Linked DNA regions of Homo sapiens. The protein of the gene in region 2 interacts with the protein of the main gene of each other region in a pairwise test. Each region holds a gene or a part of one and is shown on either strand. Other genes may lie near its edges. The genes, in order: DCLRE1A and ERCC6.

Region 1 (7,301 bases), about 64 Mb from region 2:
TGAGAAATTGGTTAATTATAAGGCTTTACTAATTTGGAAACTATTCCCTATCATACTACCATGATTGAGAAACTTTCTATAAGCCATCTTGGTATATCCCTGTGTATGTTAATTTCCAGATTTATCAAAAAATGACACCTCCCTCCCCTCAAAAAAGATGTTATATTTGTTATATTAAATTAGAAAACTTCATGGCTTACAACCTAACTTAAAAATGCCTCTTAAAAGCATTTGTTATAGAATGGAATTTAATTCAAGAGCCATCTGAGAGTCTACTCAAAGGAGTTTAGTGAAAAACCAAAAGAAAAATTTTTTGAGGTGGCTTCATCTATATGACATTTTACCCTAAGGTCTTCAACCATGGACTCCAATTTCCATTCTTGATTTTCAAGTTACATGAAAGAAAATTACTAGCAAATTTGTGAGGTTTTCACTTGCTATCCTTTTCTGGGAAAGGCTAATGCCAAATTTAAAGAAGAGTTGTTTTTTTTCTGTATCTTCATGCAGTACTTTAAAATAACTACAGGTTAATAATAAAATGTATTCTGAATCATAGCTAACATGAAAGCCATATTGAGTATTTTTTTATTTTACTGAATTTTAACTTTTTCAGATTAAAAAAATCCATATATGGAATATAAATGATTTCAAAATATATAAATCATCACAACAACCTGTTCTCCATATGTATTCCAAGTAGGATTTTCTACATTAAATACTTATTACATATTTTAAAAGATAAAAAACATAGCATACTTTTATTATCATTTGACACGTTTTTTGTTAGAATCTTAATCACCTAGGACTCCTTCACAGTTCCTCTTCCTGTATACATAGCACGATGACTAAAACATAACCATATTTAGAAACCACATTATATCTATACTTTTTTTTTTTTTTTTCAGACAAGGTCTCCCTCTGTCGCCCCACCCAGGCTGGAGTGCCCTGGCATGATCACAGGGCCCTACAGCCTCGACCTCTTGGGCTCAGGTGATCCTCCCACCTCAGCCTTCCAAGTAGCCCACCACACCTGGCTAATTTTTGGTAATTTTTTTTGTAAAGATGGGGTTTCACCATGTTGCACAGGCTGGTCTTGAATTCCTAGGCTCAAGTGATCCGCCTGCCTCCACCTCCCAAAGTACTGGGATTACTGGCATGAGCCACTGTGCCCAGCCTATTTATAATTTTCTATGGAGTTCCATAATAACCACCAACTGGGGCCGGGCGCGGTGGTTCATGCCTGTAATACCAGCACTTTGGGAGGCCGAGGCGGGCAGATCACGAGGTCAGGAGATCGAGACCATCCTGGCTAACACGGCGAAACCCCGTCTCTACTAAAAATACAAAAAATTAGCCGGGTGCGGTGGCGGGCGCCTGTAGTCCCGGCTACTCGGGAAGCTGAGGCAGGAGAATGGCATGAACCTAGGAAGCGGAGCTTGCAGTGAGCCAAGATAGCGCCACTGCACTCCAATCTGGGCAACAGAGAGAGACTCCGTCTCAAAAAAATAAATAACCAATTGGACAAGTTATCTGACTTTTAAGAACTTTCATCTATAAAATGTCAATACTAGCTACCTTATATGGTGATTGTGAAAGTTGGGTAAGTAGACAGTGTGAAAGTACCCAGCATAGTAAGGATTCAGTTAACATTTATGGAAAATAATCCAGATACTTAGGAACTTTTATGAAATAACACAATGTATTTAAACTGTTTTCTAGTCTGCCATTTGCTTTACAATTATACCGTTGACTGGTATGGTGTTTCCCAGTGTCTCATCTCTCTTTTAGGTTACTGCTTGCCTTCCTTGTTTCACTGAATTGGTATGTCTGACCTAATGAAGACTTTTTAGATTATTTAGAAACTACTACGTTTTCTGCAGTCTTACCTGTTTCAGAGCGTGGTGGAGAATCCAAACATTCAAAAACATGCCATCGAGGTGTCTGCCCTATCAATGAGGAAAAAGGCATCTGGCAATTTGGACAGTATCCATCATAAACTGGACGTATCTTTGGGGACACGTGTTGGCTTTTTTGAGTTCTACAGAGTTTTCCTGGAGTAGTTTCCTTGTCTTGGGTCTGCTGAATACCATCTCCACAACTTGAATTCTGACTAGAAGCAACAGAAGTCTGACAACCTGCATTTCCAAGGGGCACTTCATGGTCCTTCACCTCTTTAGCTTCTGCGGCTCTTTTTCTGTTTCTACTCCGTTTTGACTGGTATTTTCCATCTGTTGCTTTTTCAACAGATTTTAGAATATTTTTAGAGCCATTATTTGGATCAACTCGTTTTGGTTTTCTTTTAGATTTGTATTCCCAAATGTCTTCTTCGGAAATGTCTTCTAACATGGCAAAATGATTTTATCATTCAAGAAGTATTAATCTTAAGTAAACTGAAAGTCCATTTCTTGTCACAAACAAAAAGTTATAGAATTATTTTGCTGAGAAAAAAAACAAAGGTAACAAAACCCCCACCAACTCAATGGGAATCTGCAGTGTTGGTAATGAACATATTGGCAAGCTACAAACCTTGTACCTGACAACACCTGCTATTCCATTTATACCACAATGAAACTAAGATAAACCTATCACAGGAGTAGCAACTGTGAAGTTCTCCATTATGGGTGCTATTTCATTCAAATATCTTGTCCTTTTCCAGGGCTTGATTCATAAAAATAATACTTCAAAAATTAAGCGCTAATGGCAAATATAGGTTCAACAGCTTAATCTTAGAACGAGATTTGTAACATTGTTATGAAGCTACTGTCAGTTCTTTCAAGTGGACAACCGTCCAAATAATTCATAAATCCAACCACAGTCCCTGGACAAAGGGCTTAACAGGTATCCCAAACACTAAATGACTATCTAACAAAACTAGTCACAACATAATCAAAGAGATGTGTAATTCGCAAAAAACTGCGAAGTCACTGCCCTCATCCACGACTAGTGGATACTCAACCACTTCAGTTTCCCGCGACAGTCCATGATCTTCCTCCAGCAGCAATGAACAATCCCTGCACAGTGAACAAAAAAAGTTGATATGTGAAAAAAGTTCAAATATGTGAAAGAGTGGGCTTGTATTGAGGTCTGACTCCGTATTGCACCCATGGTTCCGAAGGTGGCCAGCCCTCTGTCCACCTGACTCAAAACGGGGTCACACGCCAGCCTCTCCCTTATCTTTTGGCATTAGAGGCTGGGAGGCCAGGAAGCGGGGCCTTAATCATCTCCAGGTTAAGCATAGCGAGCTCCAAAAAGCCCTCAGAGTCCTGCCCTTCTGAAGACTCTAAGGCCCGCCCTCAAGGACCCTCACCGCCCCCCACCTGCCACTCGGCACCCCAAGGGAGCCGCTCCAGCTGCATCCGCTCCTCCCGGCACCCCCATCTAAAAATGTGTTCGCGCCCGCACTTTCAGCACTCCCAGATGACAAAACGCTGTGTTTGTGTATAAGTGAAAGCCACTCGCGCCAGTCACTTCCAGTTTACAAAGCCTTCTCTCTGGAGGTTATCCCTACCCGCTTTACCTTTAGGGTCTTGGCGGGAACAAGTTCCCGCTGCCAGTGCCGTGTCGAATCGGCGGATGCTGTTCAAAGAGAGAGACTTTAAAAATAATTTTTAAAAATACATTGCCCTTTTAAGTCCTACGGATTTATTGTATTTTATTTGTGTTCGAAAGTCCGCTAATTCCCAATGTGGAGGGTTGGGGATGTTTCCCTTAGCGCCTCTGGGACGCTGTCCCTAAGGCCTTATTCCATGTTGAATCTGACGCTCTCAATGTCCAGGCTCGGCTGCGGCGTGGGGACCGAAAAGGGGCGGGGTGGGTCGGACGGCAGTTTAATTACGTCCCCGGGAACTGCGCCGATTTGGACTTTTGGCACTTGGACCTATGCTTTAAAAAGAAAAAAGTGTCATTGGCGTGGAGTGGGGCTAGTGGAGGGTGAGGTGAATGCGCCGTTTGGAAACCACAGGACAGTGAACGTTTCGTCTCTCCCAGCGAGACTCTCCCGCGGGCCCGGCGGCCGCATCGGGAGCCCGGCGGAAACATGGCGGCGCCCGGAGGCCGGGGCCGCAGCCTCTCCGGCCTGCTCCCCGCGCAGACCTCGCTAGAGTACGCCCTGCTCGACGCCGTTACCCAGCAGGAGAAGGACAGCCTGGTCTACCAGTATCTGCAGAAGGTGGACGGCTGGGAGCAGGACTTGTCAGTACCCGAGTTTCCGGAAGGTGAGGGGCTGGCGTCGGGGTGGGGGCCCCTCCCGGCACCTCCCCTTCCTCGGGGACGGCGCCCTCCCGCGAAGCGGTGGGCTAGGCGGGTTTGTGCCGCTGGCGCCCCGGGGAGTGGCCCTTCGCCTAACTTGGGCCGCTGTTCGCGTGTTCTGCAATTCCCAGGGGTCCCCAAGCGGCCACCGACGGGGGTTTCCCTGGCACGGGGATCCACATACTCGTCTGTGTATCCTGAGTTCCGCCCGCGCCTGATATTAGCCAAGTGGACACTCCGTGAATATTTAGTGTCCCCGGTGGCAATGATTGCAACGTCCACACCATTCTGTCCATTCAATCTGGTTCCCCAGTGTCTTCTGGTCATCTTTCTGCATCATCTTGACATTTATTGATCACTTTTTCATGTATCACACACAGGGTTTTTTTTTGTTTTTTTTTGATACGGAGTCTCGCTCTGTCTCCCAGGCTGGAGTACAGTGGCGTGATCTTGGCTCACTGCAACCTCCGCCTCCCAGGTTCAGGCGATTCACCTGCCTCAGCCTCCGGAGTAGCTGGGACTACAGGCCCGCGCCACCACGCCTGGCTAGTTGTTTTGTTTTGTTTTGTTTTGTTTTGTTTTGTTTGTATTTTTAGTAGAGACGGCGTTTCACTATGTTGGCCAGGCTGGTCTCGACCTCCTGATTTCAAGTGATCCTCCCGCCTCCGTTTCCCAAAGTGCTGGGATTACAGGCGTGAGCCACCGCGCCCGGCCTGCCACACACAGTCCTAAACACTTGAGGGGATACCTAAACACTTGAGGAGATATTACCTTATTCAATTACCTCTATATCCCAGTGAGGTGCTCCTATCATTCCCCTTTCACAGTTGAGGAAATGGAAGCACAGAGAGGTTAAGTCACATGCCCAGGGCCTCACAGCTGATAACTGCCCCAGTTGGATTATACAGGCCCTGGATTTGCTGGTTTCTTAGCTGTACTGTGCTTCTCCGTTCAAAGTCGTGAAACTAATACTTTTAAAAATCGGAATCAATTATAGCCTATTTCCAGGGTTTAAATCCTGGCCATGTGAGCTTTTGGAGCATGAAGGAACAGATATTCCCGGCAGGGATGTTTGTGAAGCATATCTTGCCATGATAAATGAAAACGTATTTTACCTTCTTTGGATGGGAGTAGCATTGCTTTGCCTGATGGTGCTGGCATGTGTCCTGGCGTGACACTGAAACCACATGTATAGTTAATTGGTTGGATGTGGCAGAATTCAGTTATCTCATGGGAGGTATATCGGAACCTGCCTCCGACAACAGAGTATTGGTGTCTTTCCAAGTCTTTTGCACTACTCACCTTGAGAAGTGCTTATTTTTCCTGCTATTAATCTTATACTGGATTTGAAATATTGTGGAATTCTTACAAAAGAATTGGGTACATGAATGCTTATCCCATCAAACTTTAAAAGATTGTTTACATCTATACAAATATATGATTTTAAAAAGTTTTGGTGCAGAAGGTAGTTATATAGTAAGTACACTGTTATAAACAAGCAGGCCATCAACTGGGATTTGGGGAATGTTTTTTATTTTCTAGTCTTGTTTGTATTTACAGGGAGTGTATTTTATTCCCATGAGATTTGACCTCTGTGACTCATAACTAAAAAAACATATAATAAAATATTCAGGCTTTGTGTTTAACACAGTATGATTTTCTCCTGGACCCGATTATTGAGGACAGAATGCTAGAAATGACTGTTTTCTTGGTTTCTTTAGCAGTAAACTATAATCAGGAAGTCATAAACATAACTTTATTTGAAAAACTGTATGCTTTGTTCATTTCTTAGAAGACTTACATGTTTATAGGAGACAGTGCAGTGTAATGGATAGATTCACAGAGACCTGGAATTAGATCCTTGTTATTTCCATTTTGTTGGTTGTGTGATTTTGAGCAAGTTACTTGACCTCAAAGCCTTATATTTCTCACTTGCAAAACTGAACTATTATTTACCTTTCAGGATTATTATTTGTATTGAAAGTAATATATGTAAAATTCTTAATTCACAGAAAAGCTTACTAAATGTTAGCAGCTTTTTATTGTATTCATTGTAATTATTGTTATTGTAAAATAAATTTTATTAAGCCTGGTAAGTATCTAGCACGGTGACTAAGATGTAGTCATTCTTTCTATACCCCCTGATCTAAGCCACTCTTGACTATTTACAGAAAAGTCACAGAAGACAGATTAATAAATATTTTGCAAGTAGGATATGAAATATACATTAATTAGTCTGAAGTTTTGTATGATCACTTGATCTGGTATATAATTAATATTTTAACAAAATGGATAATTAAGAGGTCACTGTACCCTGAAACCTCATTAGTTTGGACTAATTGGCCCAAATACTAGTTTGATCTGCAGATTTTTTTTTCTAGAATTTTGTTATGATTGAGTAACAACAGTTATTGTTGTTAATCATTAGCTGTTACTGTTTACTTCTTCCTCCCAAGTTTGGCTTTCAGTTGCTAAAAGCTATTCTAAATACCTGCTTCAAGGCATAATTAATAGTTGTAATAGCTGCATTGAGTTATTTATAAGCAGTAAACTTTGTTTTCTTAAATTGGTTAAATAGGGATGCTGTACTTTATTATTAGTTAACAAAATCTTTCTTCATAGTACAGAGCTTTCTTTTTTTGGAGGAAAGGGAACACGTTCTTCATTAATATTAATGTTACCTCAATGAAATCTGTGACAATAATAAGTGTATTTTGCTTAACTTTACATTTAGCATATTTTATTTTGTATTTACGGTCTCATCCAAATCCAGAATATTTCAGTTTCTTCTCCTTTAGGAAACTGTTTTAGGCATTTTGTATGTTTATCCTTACACACATTTCACTCCTTTTTGATGTTTAGTTATATCTTACTATTCTTAAGCTTGACCTTTATTCTCAGTAGCCCATTTGTATCTAATTGTTTATGTAATTAGGTTCATTTACTATTTGATATTTCTTCCTTTTTTTTTTTTTTTGCCTAAGTGTGTTGCCTTTACTCCTTTTCACAGACTGTTACCCTATTTCTGAAAGAATTTAGTAGCTTTTTCTTGC
Region 2 (5,446 bases):
CCTTCACAGCCTTTGGGGAAGGAAGTGGGGGCATAAACTAGAAATTAAATATATCAGTATAGTGGTCTTCTTTTTATAGGATGGCATCATGAAAAAGGAGGGAAAAGATAATGTCCCTGAGCATTTTAGTGGAAGAGCAGAAGATGCAGACTCTTCATCCGGGCCCCTCGCTTCCTCCTCACTCTTGGCTAAAATGAGAGCTAGAAACCACCTGATTCTGCCAGAGCGTTTAGAAAGTGAAAGCGGGCACCTGCAGGAAGCTTCTGCCCTGCTGCCCACCACAGAACACGATGACCTTCTGGTGGAGATGAGAAACTTCATCGCTTTCCAGGCCCACACTGATGGCCAGGCCAGCACCAGGGAGATACTGCAGGAGTTTGAATCCAAGTTATCTGCATCACAGTCTTGTGTCTTCCGAGAACTATTGAGAAATCTGTGCACTTTCCATAGAACTTCTGGTGGTGAAGGAATTTGGAAACTCAAGCCAGAATACTGCTAAACAACATTGCTTCCTAAACTTTCAAGTCCCTTTTTCTAACGGGCATTTCTGATTATTAATTTATTATTAATAATCATGTTTGTCAATGGAAGTTGGCTGCACTTGATGTTTGTTTGCATGATGTCTACCTCAGAATTAAAACTTTAAGGAAGAAGAAACTCTTCTCTGAAAGTTAAAAGTTTTAATAATGCTAGCTAAAGGAGAAAATACTTGGATTGATTTTTTTTTTTTTGGCAATCTAATTATATTGTAAATCAGGTACCTAACAGTTACTCCTTGGAGCACATTTGTTCCTTTACCCAAAAGATGCTGTCAGGGAGCACAGTTAGAAGTTTGCAGAACAGAAATCTCAATATTTTTTTTTATTGGTGCTAAAAACAGGTCTTACATTCAGTCAGACCTGTTCAATAAGTTCATCAATATCTGATAACAGCATTATTTTGATGCTTAAACTTTAAACATTTATATTTACCATTTGCCACCCACAAAGGTCAGGTTTGTTATTTGTTGTTTGATAATTATATTAATTTTCTTGGAAAGATCCTCTTTTCAAGGTACTGGTAAATTGGTGAGTATTTTTATTAGTAAAGCATGAAATAGTATGGTAATAAATGATAAGACATGTATTTGTGGAAAGCTGTAGGGTATTCAGTTTACCCTGGCTTTCCTTTAAGCAGAGGGCATCTTTTTCTCTCCTACAGTCACAAAATGTGTTATCATTAAAAAAAATCAAATTAAAGCCAAAAGTAGGTACATAAAAACCACACACATGCATGCACACAAACATCACTGCAGCCCACAGCAGACCCAGCCGTTGTTACCATGAAGTGACACCACTCCAGGCCTCTCTTGTCTGCAGGCTGGCAGGCTGTCTTCTCTCCAGTTGCCTTCGTCTTGCGCCTGCCTTTGCATTCCTTGCGACGGGCTTTCTTGTTTCTGCGGTTTGGATTCCAGCCAAGGCTGTTTGTATCTCACTACTGTTTATGTGTTTGTGGTTCTGTGATGGTGTTGCTTTGATCCTCAGTTTATTTTCTTACCCATGTTTTTCTTGTTTCCTTCTCAGGATGATTTTATCATCTCATCTTTGAAGTGTTGTTTTCCGAAATTCATCGTATTCCTGAAATTTCTTCTTAGCTGTCTTAGTGCAGTTTGTTTCTTGGATTTGTATTCTCTGGCATGCTCTTTTCCTCTCTCTCATTTTTCTGTAGTATGCCTGCCCTCCTACCCTGCTATTTCTTTACATCTCTCTCATGCTTAACATGGATAGCTGTGTCCAGATCTTCTGTCTGCTCATCCATGTGACTCAGAGAGGAGGGTTCTGGGCAGGGGGGCCTTGCCGGACTGCATGAGAGGACATGAGTTTTGCTTTCTCTGCTCTAATATTTTGCTTAAGCCAAGAATCCTTTTCTTAGAGATGTTCTATATGATTCCTGTCAGGATTTTCTAGTTTTTTTTGGATTATAGCTTGTTCATTTCTTTTGTTTTTAGTTTGGTTTATATATAATGAGGGAAGAAGATGATTACATTATTTTTGTCACTTTGCCATCATTGTTTAGAAGTCATAGAAAGAATTTTTAAATAGGCCAATAAGTCTTAAACTTGAGTACTTGGCTTAGAAGAAAGTCAAAACTCCTTCCTTTTTGACTAAGTGGTTTGTTTCTGGGGAGCTCTTAATTTCTATTTTTATAATCATTAGCCTATAAGGAAATTGTGTCTTCCTTGTTCTCAGGGTGATCTGCTGACCTTGTTCACTCATGAAGCATTTGGGTATCATACTTATAGTGTCTGAAACATAAACTGTATTGAGCTAGACAAGGTATAGCCTCCTCTTCAAGTAGCAAATACTATCAAAAGCTATAATGCAGTAGGAGCAAGGTGGTCCTTGTTCCAGTTTTTGTCTCAGTTCTGCTGCTGATGTACCATGATCTTGGGAAGGTGGTGTCTCAGTGTGGAGATCTGACACATTGTTACCGTGCCTCCTGGCTGGAGGGACTTGGAGAACAATGCAGTTAAGTAGAATGGTTTTAACAATACAGAGAAATTTATTCATTTAGATAAAAATCTGATTTTTAGAACTTTAAAAGCTTTGTACAGTGTAAATAGATTTAATGTATTTAACATGCTTTATCAGCACAAATAAAGGATTTTAAAATTTTGTCAAAAAATTAAATGTTAATACTATCACCATTAAAAATGTTCAAGCAATAGTCTGCCTCCCCACCCCCACACCATCTTGCACCTGTTCCACAGCTAAGTACAGCCCTAGGTTTGGTGTGTATTCTCCATGCATTTAGAGAATCACATGACACAGACTGCTGCTATAATGTCATTTTCCCATTCTTCCTTTACTAATAAAATTTTTGAGTTTTACCTGGACGTCTGGCTGCTCAGCTTAAGACTACTTCTCAGCCTCTCTTATAGTTAATTGTGGCCATATGACTAAGTTTTAAACTTCCCAATTGGCCCTTTAAAGAAGCAGGGTATGCACTCTCCTTGACATTCCCCTTTCTTGCTGGCTGGGAGGCCAATGGGAGCTTCAGTAGTGACCTGGCATCTCAAGAGATGGAAGTGATGTGTTGAGGAAGGAGAAGTTGGCCTGCCAGTCTTGAACTGCTCTCCTTTGACCTGTTATTTAAGAGTAAAATAAAATACTGACTTGCTTAAGCTACTGTCTTTTGAAGTCTATTATAGCAATTAGTTTGCTTTAAATATGTAATTTATATTAATGGCCTTATACCATCCTTATTTTGCAACTAACTTTTCATTTAATATTATATGCAAGACATTTCTATTCCTGTAAGTATAGCTCTGCCTGCACAGAATTGTTGGATTAATGATGTAGATTTTAAATGTCAGTGGATGTAGCAGAATTGCTTGCATCAATTCACCCTCCATAAAAGGACCCATTTCTCCAAACCCTTGCCAACAGTAAGTGGTATCAATATCGATAGGTTGTTTTGTTTTGTTTTAACCAGTCTCGTGATTGAAAGTACCTTGTTTTCACTTGAATTTCCCTGATTACGTACAAAATCAAACATTTCCATGTTTATTGGCCATTTGTAGATCTCTACCGTACATTGCCTATTAGTGTTATGTTGGCCTAGTTTTCCTGTGGGTTGTTTATCTTTTAGGATTGCTCCCCTAAACAAAAACAAAAAGGCAGTTATTCCAATGATCAACAAATATTCTTTTCTCCACCAGTTTAAAATGTCAGCTTTCAACTCATCACATGCTAAGTTGTCTATTTCTGTCCTGTGGATCCAGGTGTTGGTTCTACCAACCACACTCCTCACGCTGTCATTTGGTGCTTTGCATTGTGTTTTGCCATTCATGGGCAAGTTCCTTTTCCTTTCTCCCCCTCTTCAGTGTCTTATACTTGGGTGTTTTCTGTTCCAGCTGAATCAAGAATTAGTTTATTAAATTCCAGTAAAATTGTGGTGTTCTTTTGACTAGGATTGCATTTGTTTACACATTAATTTGAGAATAATAGACCTCTTTATAATTAATATAATGTTTCTGATTAGTGTTATGATAGGCCTCATTTTATTAAAGTCTTTTATATTCTTGGATGAAATTTTAATAACTTTCTTCATAAATGTCTTGCACATTTCATAATAGGCTTATTCCTAGGTGTTTTATAGATTTTTAGTTTTGGTTGTGAGTCTTTTAACTTACATAAAAATATGGAGAATTAGCATATTCACATATCTATTTTGTGATGTTTATCATACGGAAGTTTTAAAATATAGTAAATTCAGTCTTTCCATTTTTTTTTGTTTATTTAAGAACCATTCCCTAGCTAGGGTCATGAATACATTCTTATGAATTATTAATCCCATATGGATAGCTAGTTTCCCTAGCACCTTTAAAAAATAGTTTATTATTTTCCTCCTGATGTATAAGGCCACCTTTACCAATTTACATATAATGTACGGAAATGTTTCTTGGCTCTGCATTCTGTTAAATTGGTCCATTTATCTAACTTTGCTTAGTAACCCACTGTTTTTATCATTGTGGTATCATAATTGATTATCACAAATGGTAGAATGATTGTCCTCAAAGTCTTTTCTGGTATATATTGATATAATTGTATAGCTTTTCTTGGTGTAGTAAAGTACACAGTTAAATTTTCTAACATTGAAATATCTTTTAGATTTTCACTTCCAGAATGGCAATGTGAAGGGCCCTGTGGACCCACTGTCCTAGGAATTAGCTATAACTAGTGAAAATTGTAACAAAAAATAAACACCTTCCTCTCATACAGAGAGACACAAACACTTAATGCCACTGGAAATTGTCCTAAAAGCATGTAGAATAAAGTAACGCTTATTCAAGAAAATCCAAATCTTGGTAAGAACAGTGAGTCAGACATTTCAGCCACAACACACTCACTCCCTCCCTCCCATTTCAGTGGGTGCAGCCAAGAAAACAGAGCTCCGTCTCCCTCAGCTCCCTGTCCAGAGGTATGGTACCTCACAGGGAGGGGCAAGATGCCAGCATTTCTTATCCCCTCCAGCTTCAAGTGGCAAGAGCTAAATTCATGAAGTTAAAAACTATAATAAGGAAAAAATGCACTAAAGGGGTTCAATAGTAGATTTGAACTGGCAGAAGAAATTGTCAGCCAACTGGCAGATAGAATAAGAGAGATATGCTTTCCAAAGAACAGAGAGAAAAAAAATGAAAAATGAGCAAAACCTCAGAGAAATGTGAAGCACCATTATGTGCACCATTAAGTATGCATGTAATGGGAGTACAAGAAGAGCAGAAGAAAAAGGAAATATTTAAAGATACAATGACTGAAAACTCTCCAAATTGATTGAAAAACATCTAGGAAGCTTAGTGAACTTCCAGCATGATAAATGCAGAGGGATTCACAGACACATCATAGTCAAAAATGCTGAAATCAAAGATGAGAAAACCTTGAAAGTAGTGAGTGAAAAAAAGATA

Evidence for each region.
Region 1: the proteins of ERCC6 (region 2) and DCLRE1A interact in a two-hybrid assay, tested with the Homo sapiens proteins (one study listed by BioGRID).

The regions. Positions count from the first base shown.
Region 1 is NC_000010.11:113,850,837-113,858,137, forward strand, and holds the start of DCLRE1A (DNA cross-link repair 1A protein), read right to left. Parts: upstream 3,247-7,301; 5' UTR 2,347-3,246; coding exon 1,887-2,346; intron 1-1,886. Other genes in the region: NHLRC2 (NHL repeat-containing protein 2), read left to right, coding at 4,037-4,214. UniProt on the Homo sapiens protein: May be required for DNA interstrand cross-link repair. Also required for checkpoint mediated cell cycle arrest in early prophase in response to mitotic spindle poisons.
Region 2 is NC_000010.11:49,453,868-49,459,313, reverse strand, and holds the end of ERCC6 (DNA excision repair protein ERCC-6), read left to right. Parts: intron 1-79; coding exon 80-499; 3' UTR 500-4,844; downstream 4,845-5,446. UniProt on the Homo sapiens protein: Involved in repair of DNA damage following UV irradiation, acting either in the absence of ERCC6 or synergistically with ERCC6. Involved in the regulation of gene expression.